2 linked regions of the Homo sapiens genome follow. The protein of the gene in region 2 purifies or fractionates together with the protein of the main gene of each other region. This does not show direct contact. Each region holds a gene or a part of one and is shown on either strand. Other genes may lie near its edges.

Evidence for each region.
Region 1: the proteins of LTV1 (region 2) and TSR1 purify together in Homo sapiens (co-immunoprecipitation; 5 studies listed by BioGRID and IntAct, with this or other methods). This does not show direct contact.

What each region holds. Positions count from the first base shown.
Region 1 is NC_000017.11:2,323,837-2,336,141, forward strand, and holds part of TSR1 (pre-rRNA-processing protein TSR1 homolog), read right to left. Parts: intron 12,305-12,305; coding exon 12,201-12,304; intron 11,895-12,200; coding exon 11,675-11,894; intron 11,559-11,674; coding exon 11,424-11,558; intron 11,061-11,423; coding exon 10,636-11,060; intron 9,881-10,635; coding exon 9,721-9,880; intron 9,289-9,720; coding exon 9,125-9,288; intron 8,524-9,124; coding exon 8,333-8,523; intron 7,274-8,332; coding exon 7,111-7,273; intron 6,790-7,110; coding exon 6,679-6,789; intron 6,535-6,678; exon of another isoform or gene 6,443-6,534; intron 5,640-6,442; coding exon 5,507-5,639; intron 5,375-5,506; exon of another isoform or gene 5,289-5,374; intron 1,585-5,288; coding exon 1,468-1,584; intron 1,429-1,467; exon of another isoform or gene 994-1,428; coding exon 853-993; exon of another isoform or gene 743-852; coding exon 668-742; exon of another isoform or gene 539-667; coding exon 360-538; 3' UTR 38-359; coding exon of another isoform or gene 1-37. Other genes in the region: SRR (serine racemase), read left to right, coding at 1-37. UniProt on the Homo sapiens protein: Required during maturation of the 40S ribosomal subunit in the nucleolus.
Region 2 is NC_000006.12:143,851,491-143,863,795, reverse strand, and holds part of LTV1 (protein LTV1 homolog), read right to left. Parts: intron 6,494-12,305; coding exon 6,352-6,493; exon of another isoform or gene 6,215-6,351; coding exon of another isoform or gene 6,213-6,214; intron 6,045-6,212; coding exon 5,789-6,044; intron 3,371-5,788; coding exon 3,243-3,370; intron 1,693-3,242; coding exon 1,553-1,692; intron 953-1,552; coding exon 900-952; intron 711-899; coding exon 510-710; intron 380-509; coding exon 269-379; 3' UTR 1-268. UniProt on the Homo sapiens protein: Essential for ribosome biogenesis.

The sequences.
Region 1 (12,305 bases), on a different chromosome or scaffold from region 2:
TGAAAGGCCAGCTTCTTATCAGTCTGTTTCTGTTTAATTTACAGAAAAGGAAATGGTGGGAATTCAGTGTCTTTAGATACTGAAGACATTTTGTTTCCTAGTATTGTCAACTCTTAGTTATCAGATTCTTAATGGAGAGTGGCTATTTCATTAAGATTTAATAGTTTTTTTTGGACTAAGTAGTGGAAAAACTTTTATACTTAACTGAGACATTTTGTCAAGGCTAAAAAAAAGTCTTGCAAAATGGGGCAGTGGACTGACAGGCTGACATAGAAAATAAACTTTGCCCAATCACAACTTGTGCCTCCCATCCCTGGAGTACTGACTGGCACCGGTAAGACAGAATCTCTTTGAATCCATTACTCCATGCCCCCTTGAGGCACTGTTGAAGAAATCTCACTTTTCAGCCAGGGTACTGGTTCTGGTACATATGGATCATAAGTCCATTTGGGGAAGACTCGTTTATACAGGTTCATCAGTACTGTGTCTTGAGATTTTAGCTTCCCATCAAAGCTGCATTTCATGTGGCCATGGGTACCTAGAAAGACATCAGAACAAGTCGGTCAAATTAAAAGTAGAAAATTTTAAAGCAATGACTTCCAACCCAACAGTCATTTAGCAACACTGCAGAAATGCAGACATGGTCTCAAATCCCGTGTTTCCTTACCTAAAGGTTCCTTGATATGTCCTCTCCGGCCCCACTTCGTTCTCAGTTCCACTGGTTTAAACCACAGCACATCCTCTTAGAATCAAACACATTAAAGACCAAGATGAAACATTTACCCACAAAATGTAAACCCAACCTTTATACCACAAAGGCAATCAGATCCCATCCTCCTCCTTCATACCCACCTCTGTTGAAGAACATGTAACGTACTACTGCCATCTTAGTAAAAATTTTGAAAGGATGACCACTCAGAACAACTCTCTTGATGACCATTCTGTCTGGATCTACTGACATAAGATGGCCTGTAGCAATGAGGCTGTGCATTCCTAAAGGACAAAAGCAAAGAAGCTATTTAGGAATTTACAGGCCAAAGTCTTCATTTATTGCCCAGTCCATTTAAAGACCCATGCAAGAGCCTGGTTTGTCATCCCTGCCCTAGCCCAATCTGAGGCTAAGATTGGTAAACTGTAAGCCCACACTTAACCTTGTCAATAGGTTCTTGAAAACTTGTACTTCAAGAGAAATGATGTATAACAAAACCATACTTTTTCTCATCAGTTGTTACAAGGAAAGGATGTTGAACAAAAGGCAGTTATTTGAGGACTGGCTATACACTGTTTCACGTAAAAGTTGGAGTTTTCATTGTTCTATTAACAATGTTAAATGAAGACTTACTGTATTTTGAAAACCATCATTACCTTCTCCATACCATTTGGCTCCCAAATTTAAATAAACAAGAGAAAACGGTGTTCATCTATTAAGGACCTGCAGGGTCTGTTCATCTCTGTGGCTCAACTTACCATTGCTTTTTTGCTTGAAAAGCAGCACAGATGCAGGAGGAAAAGTGATTGGCGCATAGACTGTCGCCACCAGGGCCATGTCAGCAGTCAGGAATCTCTGCAATTTATGTTTGTCCGCTGCCATAAGGGTTAAAAAATGAAAAGCAAAACCATTTTGAGAAACCAGAGGTGATAGAGGCCTGTGAAAAGCTGTATTAGTGCAACTCTTAAACCTATGGCAGCTTCTACTTCTCTAAACCACCAGTTCTCAAAAATTTTCGCTGCCTCAATGCACCTAAAAGATACGATCTAGTCCTATCAGTAACTTTTTTTTTTTCTTTTTTTTTGAGTTTGAGTATCGTTCCTGTCACCCAGGCTGGAATGCAATGGTGTGATCTCAGCTGACTGCAACCTCTGCCTCCCGGGTTCAAGCAGTTCTCCTGCCTCAGCCTCCTGAGTAGCTGGGATTACAGGCACATGCCACCACGCCCGGCTAATTTTTGTATTTTTAGTAGAGACCGGGTTTCACCATGTTGGCCAGGCTGGTCTCGAACTCCTCACCTTGTGATCCACCCACCTCAATCTCCCAAAGTGCTGGGATTACAGGCGTGAGCCACCGCGCCAGGCTGTATCAGTAACTTTTTATTTATTTATTTATTTTGAGATGGTGTCTCGCTCTTGTTGCCCAGGCTGGAGTACAATGGTGCCATCTCTGCTCACTGCAACCTCCACCTCCCAGGTTCAAGTGATTCTTCTGCCTCAGGCTCCCGAATAGCTGGAATTGCAGGTGCCTGATCAGTAACTTTTTTATCTGGAGTCAGAATCTTGGAGCCTAGACTGTATTTGATGTTCTACCTTCAAGGTAGCCCTCACCTCCTTTTTAAAATACTAAACTTAAAGGAAAATAAAATATTTTAAGGCAAAGAAAAATTAATCTCACTTAGAGATTGTGATTCTCACAATTGGTGAGAATAAAAATTATCCAAAACACCATTAATACTGCTTTCTTCATATTCCTCCTGCCACTGCTGAGAGTGAGTGAACTAGGACGATGTTCAGAAGCCCCCAAGTTAGTGGGCAACATATCTTCCTGCTCCTACTGTGTAGGAGACAATCATTTCTGCTGCAAGTCCCGTCCAGTAGTCTCTCAGTATCTCAGGACCCCTACCTCTGCTTTACCCAACTATGAGCCATACCCAGCCTCCATTCCTTCACCCACACTGCCCTTGGCACACTAGACATCAAAGTTTCCACACTTTATCACACCCTTTTAAATTCTGAGAGACAGTGTCTCACTCTGCTATCTAGGCTAGACTGTATTTGGTGTTCTACCTTCAATGTAGCCCTCACCCCCCTTTTAAAAATACTAAACTTATAGGAAAATAAAATATTTTAAGGGCTGTGGTGTGAACACAGCTCACTGGAGCCTCAAACTCCTGGGCCCACTGGCTCAGGCAATCCCTCTTGCCTCAGCCTCCCAAGTAGCTGGGACTGCAAAGCACATGCCACCACACCTGGCTAATTAAAAAGAAAAATTTTTGGCCGGGCGCAGTGGCTCATGCCTGTAATCCCAGCACTTTGGGAGGCCAATGCGGGTGGATCACCTGAGGTCGGGAGTTTGAGACCAGCCTGGCCAAGATGGTGAAACTCTATCTCTACTAATAATAGAAAAATTAGCTAGGCATGGTGGTACACGCCTGTAATCCCAGCTGCTTGGGAGGCTGAGGCAGGAGAATCACTTGAACCTAGGAGGCAGAGGTTGCAGTGAGCCAAGATCCTGCCACTGCACTCCAGCCTGGGCAACAAGAGTGAAACTCCATCTCCCAAAAAAAAAAATTTTTTTTTCGTAGAGGCCGGGCATGTTGGCTCATCCCTATAAATCCCAGCACTTTGGGAGGCCAAGGCACGTGGATCACCTGAGGTCAAGAGTTTGAGAACAGACTGGCCAACTTGGTGAAACCCCATCTCTACTAAAAATACAAAAAGTAGCTGGGCGTGGTGGCAGACACCTATGGTCCGAGCTACTTGGGAGGCTGAGGCGCCAGAATCACTTGAACCTGGGACGGGGAGGCTGCAATGAGCTGAGATCATGTTACTGCACTCCAGCCTTGGTGACAGAGTTGGACTCTATATCAAAAAAAAAAAAAAAAAAATTGTAGAGACCGGAGTCTCACACTCCTGACCTCAAGCGATCCTCCTGCCTCAGTCTCTGCAACTGAGACTTTTATTTAGTTCCAGTTCTAAGGATCTGCCTTTACAAAATAAGCAAAGAAGTAAATAAAGTTTTATGCATACAGATCTAGTTTAGAGCAAAACATTAGAAATAGCCTAAGTGCTCACCCGTAGAAGCTCAAATAAGTATCAGTACATCACATACACTGGAATATATCCAAATGACAATAAAGCATTAAAAGTCTCATTAACTAATTAATCTTATGGAAAATTGATCAAAATCAATTAAGTGATAAATGCAATGTTTAACACCATATTTACAATTACAATCCAAATTGTGTAAAGAAAAAAAATGAGATCTGGATGAAAATGTATAAAATAAAAATGAATTTTCTCTAATATAAGGTAATTTTACTTTTACATTATTCCTTATTTTCCCAACTGTATAAAATATGAAAATAGTTCATCCTAAAAAAAAAAATCAAAACCATTTTGAAACAATAAAAGAATGACTGGCCAGGCGCAGTGGCTCACGCCTGTAATCCCAGCACTTTGGAAGGCCAAGGCAGGAGGATCGCCTAAGGTCGAGACCAGCCTGGCCAGCATGGTGAAACCCCGTCTCTACTAAAAATACAAAAATTAGCTAGGCGTGGTGGCGGGTGCCTGTAATCTCAGCTACTCGGGAAGCTGAGGCAGGAAAACTGATTGAACCTGGAAGGCAGAGGTTGCAGTGAGCCTGGATTGCACCATTGCACTCCAGTTGAGCATCAGAGTGAGACTCGGTCTCAAAAAAAAAAAAAAAAAAAAAGAGGCCAGGCACATTGGCTCATGTCTGTAATCCCAGCACTTTGGGAGACCGAGGTGGGCGGATCACCTGAGACCAGGAGTTCAAAACCAGCCTGAACTCCTGGTCTTGGTGAAACCCCATCTCTACTAAACCCCAACATGGTGAAACCCCATCTCTACTAAAAATACAAAAATTAGCTGGGCATGGTCGTGCATGCCTGTAGTCCCAACTACTCTACTCGGGAGGCTGAGGCAGGAGAATTGCTTGAACCCGGGAGGCGGAGGTTGCAGTGAGCCGAGATCACGCTATTGCACTCCAGCCTGGGCAACGGAGTAAGACTCCGTCTCCAAAAAAACAAACAAACAAACAAACAAAAAAAAACAAAAAAAACAAGAGGGGGCGCGGTGGCTCACACCTGTAATCCCAGCACTTTGGGAGGCTGAGGCGGGCGGCTCACGAGGTCAGGAGATAGAGACCATCCTGGCTAACACGGTGAAACCCCGTCTCTACTAAAAATACAAAAAATTAGCTGGGCATGGTGGCGGGCGCCTGTAGTCCCAGCTACTTGGGAGGCTGAGGCAGGAAAATGGTGTAAGTAAACCTGAGAGGCGGAGCTTGCAGTGAGCCTAGATCGCGCCACTGCACTCCAGCCTGGGCGACAGAGTGAGACTCCGTCTCAAAAAAAAAAAAAAAAAAAAAAAAAAAACAGAAACAAAAACAAGATTAAATCTTACCTTTTTTGGTCTTCAATTCCCCGTTCTAATGCCACAAGTGTTGGGATTACAGGTGTGAACCACTGCACCACTGCACCCACCCTAATACCCTTTTTATAAAGCTGCCAACTTCTATTCAAAACCTGCTATGGAACAAATACTCATGGCAAAAAAGCCTCAGTATCACACAGAAGTTGCATCACTGGGATGCTTCAGACAGGTTCAGACATTTTGAATAAAAACATCATTGGCTCTTAAGCCAGAGTACTGAAAATACCTCTAACCCAGAGATGTAAGATTTTGAAACCATATATTTTGGCACCCCTCCACCACAAGTCACTTTCCCAAAAGACAAGATGGACAAGAACCCAGCTTCCCCATTGCTAACCTGCAGTGTGCTGAGAGAATAAAGGTGAGGCTCGGAAGCGCCTGAATCCACAGTGAAATATGAGCTCTTCCTTGGCTTTCACAGGTTCAGTGTTGCCAGGGTCACGCCTCACCACCATATTCAATACTGACATCTGGGGACCAAGTAAGAAAAACAAAAATCTTCATAGTCTAGGAATACAATTGCCTAAACTGAAAGAAGGCAAACCAAACTAGCAGATTCAGACTCATTCTAAGAACTGACAATGCTAATTAATGGTGGAGTGTAGATGCTGAAACACGGGTTCATCCTTTACCTCCACCAATGACTGGCATTTAAGCCAAACACAGGCTGATCAGAGCTTTCATGCACCCTTCAATGCTAACCTACCTTCCTGCACCTAACAGAAAAGAGCTCAACATCTGCCACACAAAAATCAGTGGCCTTCAAGGCATTCACTCACCACAATCTCAAAACCACACTCATTCAAGCCCCTTCTTCTTGAGCCCTTACCAAAACCGATCAAAGAACTATCACATACCCCACAACATACACAACTACTGGCCACCAAGAGAAAAGAGATCTGCACTTTGGCATAAACTTTTTTTTTTTTTGACATAAGAGTTTCGCTCTTGTTGCCCAGGCTGGAGTGCAATGGTGCAATCTTGGCTCACCACAACCTCCGCCTACTGGGTTCAAGCAATTCTTCTGCCTCAGCCTCCCAAGTAGCTGGGATTACAGGCATGTGCCACCACGCCTGGCTAATTTTGTATTTTTGGTAGAGACAGGGTTCCTCCATGTTGGTCAGGCTGGTCTCGAACTCCCGACCTCAGGTGATCCACCCACCTTGGCCTCCCAAAAAGTGCTGGGATTACAGGCGTGAGCCGCCGCGCCCAGCCAAACCTTTATTTTTAAGGCTGCCAACCCTTATTCAAAATCTGGTCTGAAAAACATACTTGGAGAAGTCTCAGAACCACACAGAGATTGCATCACTGAGATGCTTCAGACAGGTTCAGACGATATGAATAAAACCATCATTGACTTCTCTATTATTCTCCAATTCCTAATCATAAAGGCAGACTTTTTGCATCCCAATGAGCAAAATTTTAGTCACACATAAACAGAATTTTAGACTGTCAGAAGCAGCTGGAAAGTTTCACAACCCCCCATTTTCCCACAAGACAGCAATTTACCTTCTGTTCATGAGGTAGTAAAGAAAATGCAATCAAGGGTGTTCCTTGCCTGAAGCACTCGACCACTGAGACGGGGACTTCAGAGACATGAAGTGTGACATACCAGCCAACCTGCCACAAGAAAGCAGAAAGCAATCATGGAGTTACCTTTCAAAGTCCCAATAGCGAGGAAGCTTTCTCCAAATATGTTGAGTCTCTCAGATAAAATTTTTAAAGCCAACCCTCATCCTTCAAGATGCTTCATTTACCCAGATCACACTTTTTCATTTAACATAGCTGATACCTCTTTGTTCCCAGTATCATTCTAATCAATGACTCAGGGGCTCCCCTAATCCCCAAATGCAGCATATTTTCATGCCAAGAGAAGGAATAAAGTAGGGAGCATGTTGACAAATGAAAGCAACATACAAGATGAACAAGGAGGATAGATACCTCAGCTCCTTCAACCTCTTTTTCTTCAACCTCTTTAAAGATGCTTTTCCTAGTGTTAGTAAAGTTCTGAAACTGAAATATTCGAGCATAATCTTGAGGAAGGTTTTCCTTAGGATCCCATGGAGATGTCCGGAAGCTCTTAAGGCCTCTGTATTTCTGAAATCTAGAATATTGAAGATTTTTAAAGACATTAAGTCAGATTTATATGGTGCTATATAGACTCAAGTCACTGCTAAAATGGCTAAGGAGCTAGCTGAAAAGAACTCCAATCATCCTCTCTCCAAACAACCCAACAGCTTAAACCAAGACGACACTCCGAACAGCTTATAACAAGTTCTATCGGAACCAAACCCAAGCTTCTCACTGACAAAAAAGATGCTTGGTAATGGCCTGATACAGTTCAGATGTGTCTCCCTGCCCCAATCTCATACTGAAATACAATCCCCAGTGTTGGAGGTGGAGCCTGGTGGGAGGTGACTGCATTAGGGGAGAGGTTTTCTCATGAGTGGGTTAGCACCACCCTCCTTGTTGAGTGAGTTCTCATGAGATCTAGTTGTTTAAAGTGTGTAGCACCTCCTGCCTTGCTCTCGTTACTGCGCTGGCCGTGTGACATGACTTGCTCCCCCTCCACCTTCTGCCATGATTGTAAGTTTCTTGAGGACACCCCCAGAAGCTGAGCAGATGCCAACACCATGCTTCCTGTACAGTCTGCAGGACCATGACCCAATTAAATCTCTTTTCTTTATAAATTATGCAGTCTCTGGTACTTCTTTATAGCCATGCGAGAATGGCCTAATACATAGCCTTACCTCCTAATATCCAAAATTAATTCACTGGCTTTAGTCACTCACCTCCAGAACAGATATAATCATCTACTTCTTCACTCTTCTACTTCTGCTATTCTACCCAAACCCCCTAAAATTTCCAAACATTATATACTTCAATTGAGTACTGGCTCCTTTGGGAAGAAGTATTTGCTAATTAACCTTAGTATTTCCCCTTCATTCAAGTCCTGTAACGTGAGTCTGCACCACAGTCTAGAACTTAATTACATATGACCATTTCCCGTATGTATGTCCTGCCTTCCCATATTAAATGTTAGCTCTTCAGGAGCAGAAAAAATGTGTTTTTCTTCTTTTGCATCACAGTGACACAGCTCTGAGCCAAGTTTTTAAAAACGTATTGACTGAATTTAGATTTGTTGATAGACTTGTTGACTAACCGAATTCGAGCAGCCACATCACGGGGCGTGTCCACTTCATCTGGAAACATCTCTTCCAGTCTTTCTTGTTTATATTTCTCCAACATTTTTGCCTCAGCTTCTTCATCTACTTTCTTATCATACAGATCATCATGCACAGACTCCCCAATAGTCATAGTTTCATATTCTTCCTCTTCTTCACTACTCTCATCCTGTAGAATAGGATTACAGTTTTTTCAGAAGAAATCCACACCTGTCTCTACCCCAAAGGCCAATAAGCTAAGAGTAAAATAATTGTACTAGATCCCTATTCCCAACCAACATAAATTCTAATACAGTCTAAAGTATAAAACAAAAGCCTCATTCCTGGCAACTACAGAGTCATTCCTAAGAAACTAACCATACACGGCCGGGTGCGGTGGCTCACGCCTGTAATCCCAGCACTTTGGGAGGCCAAGGCAGGCGGATCATGAGGTCAGGAGATTGAGACCATCCTGGCTAACACAGTGAAACCCCGTCTCTACTAAAAATACAAAAAAATTAGCCAGGCATGGTGGTGGGCGCCTGTAGTCCCAGCTACTCAGGAGGCTGAGGCAGGAGAATGGCGTGAACCCAGGAGGGAGAGCTTGCAGTGAGCCCAGATCGCACCACTGCACTCCAGCCTGAGCAACAGAGCAAGACTCCGTCTCATAAAAAAAAAATAAAAAAAATAAAAAAAAGAAACTAACCACACACACCCATCAAGATCACACCTGCACTTTGCCTTACATTTGGAGCTAGACACAGAATTGGCCTAAGGCCTCATTTCCTTACCTGAGATTCCTCCTCCATAAAATCCTCATGTTCCATATCATCATATTCATATTCATCTCCTTCCCCACCACTTTGGCTGCCACCATCCAAAATCCATTCAGCTTGGTAACTGGATGTTCCTTTGGGGACCTTCTTTACCACCTTAGAACTTTCCTTCAAGAAATCTGTAAAAGCCCAAACAAATTAAGTAAATTACAGACTTCTTTTCCCTATCCCTCTGGTTATTCTCACCTAGGCAAGGCACCAGATACTGCTGCCAACATGGGAAATTCTGGCAGACACTGTAAATAGAACTACTTCCAAATTTAATTCAGCTGCCTCACAACTAGCAATACTTACACAGCTAAATAAGCCCTGCAATGAATCCAAAGTTGTTTATCTGTTCATGATAAAACATTAACACAAGTAATTTTGAGAAATGGAACAAGACTGTGTATAATGTTTGTTTATTGAAAACATACAGCATTTGAGGGTGAGGAGAGACTTTCAACTATACCCCCACCCCACTCTATCCTATAGGGCCCTCACTTGGAACAGCTACAGAAAATCCACAATTCCAGGTCAGATGAATTACAGACAAGTTTACCAATACTGACCCTTTGCCTCGCTCAGCTCCTCCTCAGTGGGCCAGGTTTGCTCTCCCTCCATTGGATCTGGGATAACCTCTGCTTGCAAGGATTCCTGTCTACCAGGGTCTGCCTTCATTAGGACTTTAAGACCTTCTTCCATATCATCTACAGCATCCGTAGCACAAATCTGAAAACCAAAAGCAGGTGATAGTCAACCATGAACCAAAAATCTCCTAAATCTAACACAGTAACCAGAAAGACCCAGAAATATCAGTCCTCATGTATAAGATGAGTGCGACAGAATGCTAAAACTTGTCAAAACTTTTCCAATGGCTGTTTTCTAATTTCCAGGGTATTTTAAGTCTCTGCTTGGCTCTTGAGGTCTTTCTTAATCTGCTCCCACTCCTATCCATTTATTACGTACCTCACTCCCATCAAGCTGATTTCTTCAAGGTTCACATAAACCCTTTGATCCACCACTGTGCCTAGGTTCATTCTGTCTCTTATCTTCTAGGATATTCTTTTATCCCTCTTCAACTCATAAATCACATTTATCCTTCTCAACACCTAGCTCAAGTCTGATCTCTTATGTGAAGCTTGCTAGTCTACTTTCTCAACTTCCACTGCTGGTCCGCACTCTAACCATATGCTATCTCAATCTTTATTTCACACATGCCATTTTGTTCCAGCCCAATTAAGTCCCTTGAGGAAAGCAACCACATCTTGAGTGTGTTCTATAAACTCAGAGCCAATCACAGTGCAGACTACCTAGAAAGTGCTGGATAAATATGTGATTTATCAACCTATTTATAACTGACTATTGCCTTACTTCAGACTAGCAGTCTCCTCATTCACCTAAGTGTACAGACTATCTTCTCTGAATTTAAGTTTCCTTCCTGTGCCAACTTTCATATGAACATGAATTAAGAATATCAGTCTTACCTCCATTGCCATGTCTGGGTCCTTTTGGGGTTTAATTCCTCTAGGATTTAAAGGGAAAGGGTCTCCGGGGGCATCTATCTGTTTCATCTGGAAATCACCATATCCAACGATATGCAGCAACCTATTGACATTCAGAGTCTGCCCTCGAACATAGCCTGAAATTTTCAAGGTGCCCACCAAGTTATTCTCTTCACTAGGAACAAAATCAACAGCATGGGCAAATAGGTAGGCCCGCCGATCTCGAAAAGCAAGATGCTGTTGCTTCTGGTTAGCCAACTGCCTAAGCAGCATCCCTGCCTCCTGTTGAGTGTCTAACAAGAGGAGTTTGTCATGCGGAAAGCGCTTCTCCACTGCTTTACTTAGCTTCTTCCTGGTATCTATTTGTTTCTTCAGTGGGAGGCCAGAAATCCCCTGGACAGCTAGTGCTGTAAGCGAAAGAGAAAACGCTTCATGACCTACTGCTTCATTACATAAAAATCCCTCTGCAGTTCACAAACAACCTAATAGCTCAGTTGCAAGCCCAGAGATCACTGGGAAGCCCAACACTGAACTACCCTGAAGGAATTTCACAGTGAAATCAAACTTCATATCCTTGTTTCTCTGGGCAAAGGACAGCCAAAAACAAAAAGACACCCTGAGTGATAATCTGTAAACAATGGATCAAGTTTAATCCATATGTGTACATCCCACCACCAGCTGAATATGATCCATCAGTTGTATTCCTGTATCAAATACCAGGCATAGTGCCTGACAAATTAAAGGTGCACAATAAATGCTAACTCACTTACTATAGGTCGGAAGGCCCTGAGCAAAGAGGCAGGAAAGACAGTAATCACCGGTGCTGTCCCAGCCTTCTAGTGGATCAAGGAGGAACAGGATGGTATCAGCTACTTTAGCCATGTCTAACACAACGTGCAGATCCCCTGCAGATAGAAGACACAGTAAGAAGAGGTGGTTGGCACCAGCACATTATTCTAAAAAAAAAAAAAAAAAATACCACTACTCAAACATAATACAAAATATTGGTGTATACTCTAACCTGGCCTTGCTGAGGTGAAAAACCACCGATGTTTCAAGCGGGGGCACAGCAGCATAAAGTTCTGGGTGTTTCCCAATTCATTCAAGTGTACTGTTCCAGTGTCCCTATCTTGAAGCAGCTGCATGGCCTCTGGCAGGGAAATTCTGCTGTGCAGGGGCACCACCAGTACCTGATGAGGAGGGCCATCCTTGCCACCCAGCTGTCTCTTCTCTGCCAGAACCTGAAAATAGAAAGATATCCGAGAACATCTCAGTGTCTCAGTACTTCACTCCAGCATTGCATTTCCACTCCCACAGATGCTCCCCCTACCCAAAACCAGCATCTCTCTAGTAAAAGACCACAGGTATGCCAGCGGGGTGGCAGGAATTCTGACCAAAGCAAAGAATGCTAGACCTGCACGCTCGACACGTGCTCTAGGGCTATGCTCTGTCCCTGGACCCTCCTCCCGGTCTCATTTTCCACTTCGAGGCATTAGCCACCTAGAACACCAGAGAAGCCGCATTCTCCCAAATCCCGCTCCTCTCACCGCCTCCTTCTTCTGCTTTCGGAGCTGGCTGGCGCGATGCCTCTGGTCGACTCTGCTGAGTTCTTTTCTCACCTTCTTGCTTAGGGTTTTCAGTGCCAGACGGCC
Region 2 (12,305 bases):
TTTTCCTTTAATTTATCAAACATTTCACATTCATGAAGTCATTTACTTCAGAGCAAATGTAAGCTTATAATATTAAAAATTAAAGTATTACAATATTTACAAGATGGTTGGCAGGGGACACTTACTAGTATAAAAATAATACAAATATTGTATTTTCCTCTTATCTGCCAGTAAAAATGGCAAACAGTTTTGTCTTTCTGAAGTTTCTAGTCAATAACCAAAGATGAGGAGCCCCTAATAAAGTGCCTTGCCCTGTATGCTCCACTGTCTATAGCTTTAGACCCTCAACATTCTTCTTCAAGTTCAGCAGCTCTTTTTCTTGCCTTCTTTTCTCCAGTTTAAATGCTAATTTGTTAGCTTTCTTCTCCACTCTTCGTTCCTGTTATAAGTACAAGAATATACTTGTATTATTCACATCTTTAAACTGATACAGACTGCTTTTACAAAATTCCCCTAATTTCCCCTCCACCAGCTCTTTGTAAATCTCACATTTGAAAAATATATTTTACCTTGCGCTCTTCTTTTATAGCTTGCTTTCTTGCTCTTTTATCTTCTTTGCTTTCATTTTTAGAACGTGGCTGAGTTGATACTTTAGGAAGATCACTGCCATTAATCATCTGTATTCTTTCAGTTTGCTTTGCTGTGAGTCCTTTCTTTGGTAAGACATTGAGAGGTATTCCTGTTTTAGAAGATATTCGAATTTGTTTGGGCTGAAATACAGATAAAATGGTACTAGAGTTACTTCTCATTCCTATTAAAAAATAGCTCATTAATGACATACTGTTGATGCTTTTTCTAATATCACTCTAGCCATAAAGATAAAAAGTTATTGTGCGAAAATGTGCACTCTATTTTTTATGCACTGCATCCTTCAAATAGCTCAGCACACTAGGACTTACCTTTGGTTGATACTTGATAAGCTGTGGATGGTTATATAAATTTGAGTATGTACCTAAACAAACAAATAAAAGTCATGTATCAGTAAGCATGTTTTCAGTTCCACAAAGCATTACTGAATTCCTACTATATTTCTGACCTTGTGTTTTCATAGTGCAAAATAACACTGGAGTCTCTGATCAATGTTTTATAAATTGCTTACAACTCAGTATTGGAATATTACTCTTTCCAAATAATTTTTCACAAATTTCCTAAAAGCCTAACTCTTATTAAAATATATGTATTTTTTCAAAGTTGATATATGTTTTTTTTTAGACAGAGTTTTGCTCTTGTTGCCCAGGTTGGAGTGCAATGGCATGATCTCGGCTCATTGCAACCTCTGCCTCCCAGGTTCAAGCTATTCTCCTGCCTCAGCCTCTCGAGCAGCTGGGATTACAGTTGCCTGCCACCATACCTGGCTAATTTTTGTATTTTTTAGTAGACACGGGGTTTCACCATGTTGGCCAGGCTGGTCTTGAACTCCTGACATCAGGTGACCCACCCGCCTCGGCCTCCCAAAGTGCTGGGATTACTACAGGCGTGAGGCACCGCACCCAGCCTAAAGTTGATATACTTTAATACTTTAAAATTACTATCATAAAGTGAATATACTTACTACAAATAGATTCACAATCCCACTTCTCTTTGGCTTCTTCAAGGACTACAGTAATCATTTCTTCCTCCTCAGACTCATCAAGCTCATTCATTGGCAGGTCTTGATCCTCCAAGGGTTCAAGGGTATTCAATTTTACACAACTTTTAGACGAGTTTTTAAAAGTGAAGACCAAGAGGGGGAAAAATGACCTATTATTATACTATGTCACTAAAACTGCAATTTTTAGCTGTGGAAAAACCAATGTTTTAAATGCACATATTCCAGTGACCCATCCGTTATTTTCTGTCAAACTCTGTTCTACCCAGCCCTGCCTCTTCCCTCCAGTGAGTTTTGGACATTCACTCGGCTGATAGGAAGGTAACATCTAGCTGTGTCTTTCCAAGGCAGCTTCCTAAGAAAACAGGTTTTTAAAGCCTAAAAAAGCATAACTCATCTGTCTCTGCAAAGTATTCGAATATTTCACTCAACTATATAGCTTCTTTTTCTGCTATGGGATCTATATATTATAGTGATCATGGAACATCAGACCTTTCTAGCTGATTTGAACACTTCATCAGTTTCTCTCAGAGAAGAGTCACCTTGATGTGGATGCTGATTTGCCAAAATAACTGGCTGGTCAGTTCCGCTAATCCAGCTGGAGAGACAAATTCTTGTCTTTCCACGAGATGTAAATACCTACTTCTCAGAACACCTGGCATTTCAGAAAGATGAAAAAAGCGTATGCTTGGAATAATTCTTCAGCCCAAAAGACTAGAAACACGATCTTATTTTCCAAGGGGAATGTGTCCCTTTATTTCTTTTTTTTTTTTTGAGACAGAGTCTCGCCCTGTCACCCAGGCTGGAAGCAGTGGTGCTATCTCAGCTCACTGCAACCTCTGCCTTCCAGGTTCAAGTGATCCTGTCTCAGCCTCCCAAACAGCTGGGATTACAGGTGTACACCACCACGCCCAGCCTGTCCTTATATTTCACACCCTAATAATATTCATGCTTCTATCAAAACAAAACTTTTAAGCAAAATAAATAAAAGTTAAAAAAAAATTAAAAATTGGCCAGGCACAGTGGCTCAGACCTATAATCCCAGCACTTTGGGAGACCGAGGCAGGCATATTACATGAGGTCAAGAGTTTGAGACCAGCCTGGCCAACATGGTGGAACCCCATCTCTACTAAAAATACAAAAATTAGCTGGGCATGGTGGTGTGCACCTGTAATCACATCTGCTCAGGAGGCTGAGGCAGGAGAATCACCTGAACCTGGGAGGCGGAGGTTGCAGGTGAGCTGAGATCGCACCACTGCATTCCAGCCTGGGCAACAGAGCAAGACTCCGTCTCAAAAAAAAAAAAAAATTTAATAAACGAATACACATTCTACCATGACTCTTCTCCAGTCAAAGATACGGAGAAAGTGGCTCCTCGTATATTCCCATTACGTTCTACTTCAGAACATTTAACACCAAAATGTAGGCAAAACAATGAGCTATACATGACCCAAGTTTATGGAAAATGTACCACTTTCTTTTTTCCGCCCTATCTTTTTTTTTCCCCTTTTCTTTTTTCCTTTTTCATTTTCTCAATATGTATTTTGACTAGGTTAATTTTTTCCTCAATTCAGTTATACTATAGACCTTTCTTTGGAATTTTTTCTTTTTTAAAAAAAAGAACAGCTAAACAAGGAAGGAAAAGTCACTATACTTCTCTGCCTTCTCTTTATAGTAGTCATTCAAAACTTCCTGTAAGCGATTGCTGTCCACTTGAATAGAACCTTCCAATTCTGCATTATCCAGAGCTCCAATTTCATCATCATCATATTGCTCATAAAACTTGAATATAAACAGAGAAAAGATACCATGAAAAGCAAATGTACTCAGTAAGACTACACACTTAAAAATTTTTTTACATTAACTTTATTCTTACACAATAGTTATTCAGGTACTATCACAATTACCATTAAAATATCAGTAGGGATTTAATGCAACAATAGGATGTGGAAGATATTTCTGCTCAGTACTTTAAGACTTACATTTAGCCTAAAAATAGGCTTCCATTTAACATGTAAATGAAAGGCATTATTCCACTCAGCTTGGAGAACAAAATGCTAGGCAGCACAGATTACGTCAGAACATTTTTGAAGATACTTTTTCTTTTTTTTAAGTATCTCACTGTCTCCCAGCCTGGAGTACAGTGGCGTGATCATAGTTCACTGCAGCCTCAAACTCTCAGGCTCAAGCAATCTTCCCACCTCAGCCTCTCAAGCAGCTGGGACCACAGGCACATGCCACCATACCAGGCCATTTTATTTATTTTTTTAAATAGAAACAGGGTCTGCACTGCCCAAGACAGTCTCAAACTCCTAGGCTCAAGTGATCCATCTGCTTCGGCCTCCCACAGTTCTGAGATTATAGGCACGAGACACTACGCCTAGACTAAAGATATTTTCATATTCCTTAGTTATGCAAACTAAAAGATTGTGCAACTGAAAATTCACCTACTAATGTATATATTTGTTCTTGTTTAGACAATAATTACTATATTATGCAAATGGTGTTGACACTGTTAAGCTTTGACAAAGAGTAAATGGGGGGGATATATCTCCTGAAGAGTGAGATTTGTAGCAACAGTTTGTTTCTCCCTCAAGAGAAGAGGGAAAATAGTATTAGGTGAGAAGGTAGCAAGGTAACAGCCTTTATTTTAGATTCACCTGGATGGCAACTATTCCTTCATTCATTTATCATTTATGGAACACTTTAAACTTCTATTACATGCCAAGACACCATTTTAGGCTTTTGGATGTATCCGTGAGCAAAATACAAAGAACTCTCTGCCCTTGGGGAATTCACATTCTAATCTGAGACAAATCTATATATAACATACATAATAAAGCACAACATTAGAGATGATGTTAGGAGGTGTTATGTGCTACAGAACAAACAACAGGATAGGTGGGATTAAAAACCTGTATAAACAGTCTATAGGTTGGGATTATAAACCCTGGAGCTAATCTGTTACAACAGAACCAAATAGAGTATATGAAAATACAAGCTTTCAAAAGTGTCTTATACTCTACTTCCATTCTATTCCTCAGTGTTAGTTATGTCTGAAAACACCAGATGAGAAACGGAAAGAAATGGAATTTTGATGTGCTCAATCAGGCCAATACTTCAGAAATATAGCATCTTATGGATTACTGTTGGAGAAATTCAGAATCAGGATGTCAGAATTCAAGGGGGAAAATAAGAACGTTTGATCAGCCAACTCCTTTTGACCTACACACGTTCTTTCCAGAATCAAAACTAGGGTGACTGGCCTCATAGAATATGTAAAGGGAAAACGACAATAACTAAGGTGCTTTTATGCTCTGTTTTAATAAAGAGATACGCTGTTTTCAACACTCAAAAGTTTTAGCTTTGGGTCCCAATCTCTCTTTTTAAAAAATAAAAAAAGAAAAATAACAAAAAAAAACAAGGCACACAGCAAGGCGCCTAACATCTACTTAGCTCGCGGGCGGATCAGCTGACTTGGCCAGAGGATGTTCCAGTTTCCAGATCAACCTCAACCCGCTCGGCTTCGTCAAGGTCCTTGAGTGGACTGCTTCTATCTTTAGAGTCACCTTGAAGGAAACTATTCCTTCATTCATTTATCATTTATGGAACACTTTAAACTTCTACTACATGCCAAGACACCATTTTAGGCTTTCAGATGTATCGTGAGCAAAATATAAAAAACTCTCTGCCCTTGGGGGATTCACATTCTAATCTGAGACAAATCCATATATGACATACATAATAAAGAAGCACAACATTAGAGATGGTGAGGGTTTAAGGGCCACTTCTGGGGGTTTTAAGGGCCAAATAGAAACTCAAGTGAGTTGTCCTACCACAGTTAGTGAGAATAAAACTATTACAGCTACTTTTGGTTACCCATTCAGGTTGAATGAGGCATCATTTGAGCCACCTCCTGGTGTAAGCGTGTGATGTAAATTGGAAAAGTCACATCCTCCTAACCAATTACTCTTCTTCTGCACAGTTCTATGCTCCCTTTGCAGTCTTTGTGCTCCTGTACTGCACTGATACCCTTCTGCTTTATGCTGGCTACACGAACCTATAGCTGGATAGTTGTAAACTTCCTATGATTGACTTTGTGGTTGGTGAGCACTTCAACCTGGGCTAAAGCTGACAGGTATTAAAAAAAAAAATTTAACATAAGATAGTACTAAAGCATCCCTTATGTGGGGACCTTACCTTCTCAAACCTCTCATCATGTAGGGTCAGCTGTTCATTTCTCCTCATGACTGAGGAAGTCATCGAATACTCCGTGAAGCGACTCTTTGTTTCCTCACTCCAGAACAAGTGATCTGCTATAGCTCTGTGAGTTTTTCCGGGCACAGACATACAGTCTTCATCTGACAATAGGCCTGCAGAGTCATAGTCATCATTGCTATCTCCCTTCTCATCATCCACATCTTCCCACTCGCTGTCATCTTCATTCTCAGATTTCCTAAAGTAAAGGTCATAAATTACCTACCAAAACAACTTAAAAAGTAACAGAACAAAACCACTTTACACAAGTAAAATTGGAAGGTATTTCAGGAAGGGTTCTTGTCTAGGCAGGAAGAGTGAGGGTGTTTGATCAATCTGGTTTGGTAGGAAAAGCAATGAATCTCACATTTTCTGCTCTAAAATACAGAAGTCTCAGATTAAATGCTCTTGAAGGTCTCTTCCAACTGTAACGTTCTATGGTTACCATCCCACTGAAGCAGTAACACTTAGGTCATCATCTCTGCTTTGAAACAAACCACACATACTGTATATCCATTCCCTCTTCCTCTCCTGTTGCCTTATTGGCCTGAAGAATAAAGTCATCCTCAAGCAGATTATCTGGATCATCAAAGTCAAAATCATCATCAAGAGCTGCAACAATGTCAGGATCAAAATCCAGTCGAGGTCCTAGAAGGAAAACAAAAATTAAGCAGTAATTCCCAAGATAGCAACAATTCATTCACTTAACTCACAATATAAGGACCTATGATAGCAAGAGTCTATTAATATATTGAGGATAAAAGAACGATTAAGAACTAAGTTCAGTCTAGTGAAGAATAAAGAATGAACACTCCAAGACAAAAAAAGGAAACAAAATGCTGCCTCAGCCCCAGTCAGGACCTTATAAATAAAACTCCCATCTTCCTGGGACAGAGCACCTGGGGGAAGGGGCGGCTGTGGGCACAGCTTCAGCAGACTCAAACGTTCCTGCCTGCCGGCTCTGAAGAGAGCAGCGGATCTCCCGGCACAGTGCTCAAGCTCTGCTAAGGGACAGACTGCCTCCTCAAGTGGGTCCCTGACCCCTGTGCCTCCTGCCTAGGAGACACCTCCCATCAGGGGTCAATAGACACCTCATAGAGGAGAGCTCTGGTTGGCATCTGGCGGGTACCCCTCTGGGACAAAGCTTCCAGAGGAAGGAACAAGCAGCAATCTTTGCTGTTCTGCAGCCTCTGCTGGTGATACCCAGGCAAACAGGGACTGGACTGGACCTCCAGCAAACTCCAGCAGACCTACAGCAGAGGGGTCTGACTGTTAGAAATAAACCTAACAGAAAGGAATAGCATCAACATCAACAAATAGGACGTCCACACAGAAACCCCATCCAAAGGTCACCAACAACAATGACCAAAGGTAGATAAATCCAAGAAGATGAGGAAAAACCAGCACAAAAAGGCTGAAATTTCCAAAAACCAGAATGCCTCTTCTCTTCAAAGGATCACAACTCCTCGCCGGCAAGGGAACAAAACTGGACGGAGAATGCGTTTGATGAATTGACAGAAGTATGCTTCAGAAGGTGGGTAGTAACAAACTCCTTGGAGCTAAAGGAGCATGTTCTAACCCAACGCAAGGAAGCTAAAAACCTTGAAAAAAGGTTAGAGGAATTGCTAACTAGAATTACCAGTTTAGAGAAGAACATAAATGACCTGATGGAGCTGAAAAACACAGCAAGGGAACTTTGTGAAGCATACACAAGTATCAATAGCCGAATTGATCAAGTGGAAGAAAGGACATCAGCGATTGAAGATCAACTTAATGAAATAAAGCGTGAAGACAAGATTAGAGAAAAAAGAATGAAAAGGAACGAACAAAGCCTCCAACAAATATGGGACTATGTGAAAAGACCAAATCTCTATGTTTGATTGGTGTACCTGAAAGTGATAGGGAGAATGGAACCAAGTTGAAAAACACTCTTCAGGATATTATCCAGGAGAACTTACCCAACCTAGCAAGAGAGGCCAACATTCAAATTCAGGAACCACAAAGATACTCCTCGAGAAGAGCAACCCCAAGACACATAATCGTCAGATTCACGAAGGTTGAAATGAAGAAAAAAATGTTAAGGGCAGCCAGAGAGAAAGGTCGGGTTACCCACAAAGAGAAGCCCATCAGACTAACAGTGGATCTCTCAGCAGAAACCGTACAAGTCAGAAGAAAGTGGGGGCCAATACTCAACATCCTTAAAGTAAAGAATTTTCAACTTAGAATCTCATATCCAGCCAAATTAAGTTTTGTAAGTGAAGGAGAAATAAAATCCTTTCCAGATAAGCAAATGCTGAGAGATTTTGTCACCACCAGGCCTGCCTTACAAGAGCTCCTGAAGGAAGCACTAAATATGGAAAGGAAAAACTGGTACCAGCCACTGCAAAACGTACCAAACAGTAAAGACCATCGATACTAAGAAGAAACTGCATAAACTAATGGGCAAAATAACCAGCTAGCATCATAATGACAGAATCAAATAACACATTACAATATTAACCTTAAATGTAAATGGGATAAAAGCCCCAATTAAAAGACACAGATTGGCAAATTGGATAAAGAGTCAAGACCCATCAGTGTGCTGTATTCAGGAGACCTATCTCATGTGCAAAGACGCACACAGACTCAAAATAAAGGAATGGAGGATATTTACCAAGCAAATGGAAAGCAAAAACAGCAAGTGTTGCAATCCTAGTCTCTGATAAAACAGACTCTAAACCAACAAAGATCAAAAAACACAAAGAAGGGCATTACATAATAGTAAAGGGAACAATGCAACAAGAAGAGCTAACTACCCTAAATATATATGCACCTAATACAGGAGCACCCAGATTCATAAAGCAAGTTCTAAGAGACCTACAAAGAGACTTAGACTCCCACACAATAATAATGGGAGACTTTAACACCCCACTGTCAATATTAGACAGATCAACGAGACAGAAAATTCACAAGGATCTTCAGGACTTGAACTCAGCCCTGGACCAAGCAGACCTAATAGACAGTGACGTAACTCTCCACCCCAAATCAACAGAATATACATTCTTCTCAGCACCACATTGCACTTATCCTAAAATTGACCACATAATTGGAAGTAAAACACTCCTCAGCAAATGCAAAAGAATGGCAATCATAACAAACAGTCTCTCAGACCACACTGCAATCAAATTAGAACTCAGGTTTAAGAAATCCACTCAAAAATGCACAACTACTTGGAAACTGAACAACCTGCTCCTGAATGCCTACGGGGTAAATAACAAAAATAAGGTAGAAATAAATAAGTTCTTCGAAACCAATGAGAAAAAAGACACAACATACCAGAATCTCTGGGACACAGCTAAAGCAGTGTTTAAGGGGAAATTTATAGCACTAAATTCCCACAGGAGAAAGCAGGAAAGATCTAAAATCGACACCCTAACATCACAATTAAAAGAAGTAGAGAAACAAGAGCAAACAAATTCAAAACCTAGAAGACAAGACATAACTAAAACACAGCAGAACTGAAGGAGATAGAGACACGAAAACCCTTCAAAAAAACCAATGAATCCAGGAGCTAGTTTTTTGAAAAGATTAACAAAATAGATAGACTGCTAGCCAGACTAATAAAGAAGAAAAGAGAGAAGAATCAAATAGACACAATAAAAATTGATAAAGGGGATATCACCACCGATCCCACAGAAATACAAATTACCATCAGAGAATACTATAAACACCTCTATGAAAATAAACTAGAAAATCTAGAAGAAATGGATAAATTCCTGGACACATACACCCTCCCAAGGCTAAATCAGGAGGAAGTGGAATCCCTGAATAGACCAATAACATGTTCTGAAATAGAGGCAGCAATAGCCTACCAACCAAAAGAGAAGCCCAGGACCAGACAGATTCACAGCCAAATTCTACCAGAGGTACAGAGAGGAGCTGATACCACTCCTTCTGAAACTATTCCAAACAATAGAAAAAGAGGGACTCCTCTCTAACTCATTTTATGAGGCCAGCATCATCCTGATACCAAAACCTGGCAGAGACACAACAAAAAAAGAAAATTTCAGGCCAATATCCCTGATGAACATCAATGCGAAAATCGTCAATAAAAAACTGGCAAAACAAATCCAGCAGCACATCAAAAAGCTTATTCACCACAATCAAGTTGGCTTCATCCCTGGGATGCAAGGCTGGTTCAACGTAATCCATTACATAAACAGAACCAATGACAAAAACCACATGATTATCTCAATAGATGCAGAAAAGGCCTTTGATAAAATTCAACACCCCTTCATGCTAAAAACTCTCAATAAACTAGGTATTGATGGAACATATCTCAAAATAATAAGAGCTATTTATGACAAACCCTCAGCCAATATCATACTGAATGGGCAAAAGCTGGAAGCATTCCCTTTGAAAACCGGCACAAGACAAGGATGCCCTCTCTCACCAATCCTATTCAACACAGTATTGGAAGTTCTGGCCAGGGCAATCAGGCAAGAGAAAGAAATAAAGCGTATTCCAATAGGAAGAGAGGAAGTCAAATTGTCTCTGTTTGCAGATTAACATCACTGTCTATTTAGAAAACCCCATCATCTCAGCCCAAAATCTCCTTAAGCTGATAAGCAACTTCAGCAAAGTCTCAGGATACAAAATCAATGTGCAAAAATCACAAGCATTCCTATATACCAATAATAGACAAACAGAGAGCCAAATTGTGAGGGAACTCCCATTCACAATTGCTACAAAGAGAATAAAATACCTAGGAATCCAACTTACAAGGGATGTGAAGGACCTCTTCAAGGAGAACTACAAACCACTGCTCAAAGAAATCAGAGGGGACACAAACAAATGGAAAAACATTCCATGCTCATGGATAGGAAGAATCAATATCATAAAAATGGCCATACTGCCCAAAGTAATTTACAAGATAATCCTAAGCAGAAAGAACAAAGCTGGAGGCATCACACTACCTGACTTCAAACTATACTACATGGCTACAGTAATCAAAACAGCATGGTACTGGTACCAAAACAGATATATAGACCAATGGAACAAAACAGAGGCCTCAGAAATAACACCACACATCTACAGCCATCTGATCTTTGACAATCCTAACAAAAACAAGCAATGGGGAAAGGATTCCGTATTTAATAAATGGCATTGGGAAAACTGGCTAGCCATATGCAGAAAACTGAAATTGGACCCCTTCTTTACACCTTATACAAAAATTAACTCAAGATGGATTAAAGACTTCAACGTAAGACCTAAAACCATAAAAACTCTAGAAGAAAACCTAAGCAATACCATTCAGGATATAGGCATGGGCAAAGACTTCTTGACTAAAACATCAAAAGCAATGTCAACAAAAGCCAAAATTGACAAATGGGATCTAATTAAATTAAAGAGCTTCTGCAGAGCAAAAGAAACTATCATCAGAGTCAACAGGCAACCCACACAATGGGAGAAAATTTTTGCAATCAATCCATCTGACAAAGGGCTAATATCCAGAATCTACAAAGAACTTAAATTTACAAGAAAAAAACAAACAACCCCATTGAAAAGTGGGCAAAAGATAGGAACAGATATTTCTCAAATGAAGACATTTATGCAGCCAACAAACATGAAAAAAAGCTCATCATCACTGGTCATTATAGAAATGCAAATTAAAACCACAATGAGAAACTATCTCACGCCAGTTAGAATGGCAATCATTAAAAAGTCAGGAAACAACAGATTCTGGAGAGGATGTGGAGAAATAGGAACGCTTTTATGTTGTTGTTGGGAGTGTAAATTAGTTCAACCATTGTGGAAGACAGTGTGGCGATTCCTCAAGGATCTAGAACCAGAAATACCATTTGACCCAGCAATCCCATTACTGGGTACATACCCAAAGGATAATAAATCATTCTACTATAAAGACACATGCACACGTAGGTTTATTGTAGCACTGTTCACAATAGCAAAGACTTGGAACCAACTTAAATGCCCATCAATGACAGACTGGATAAAGAAAATGTGGCACATATACACCATGGAATACTATGCAGCCATAAAAAAGGACACGTTCATGTCCTCTGCAGGGACATGGATGAAGCTGGAAACCATCACTCTCAGCAAACTAACACAGGAACAGAAAACCAAACACCGCATGTTCTCACTCATAAGTGGGAGTTGAACAATGAGAACATATGGACACAGGGAGGGGAACATCACACACTGGGGCCTGTTGGGGGATGGGGGCCTAGGGGAGGGATAGCATTAGGAGAAATGCCTAATGTAGATGATGGGTTGATGGGTGCAGCAAACCACCATGACGTGTATACCTACATAACAAACCTGCACATTCTGCATATATATCCCAGGACTTAAAGTATAATTTAAAAAAAAAAATGAAAAAAGAAATGATGCTTCTCCTTTTAATATCCACTGGTGAAAATAATGTTCCATTAAACATCTATAATGTTTAACTTTGTCT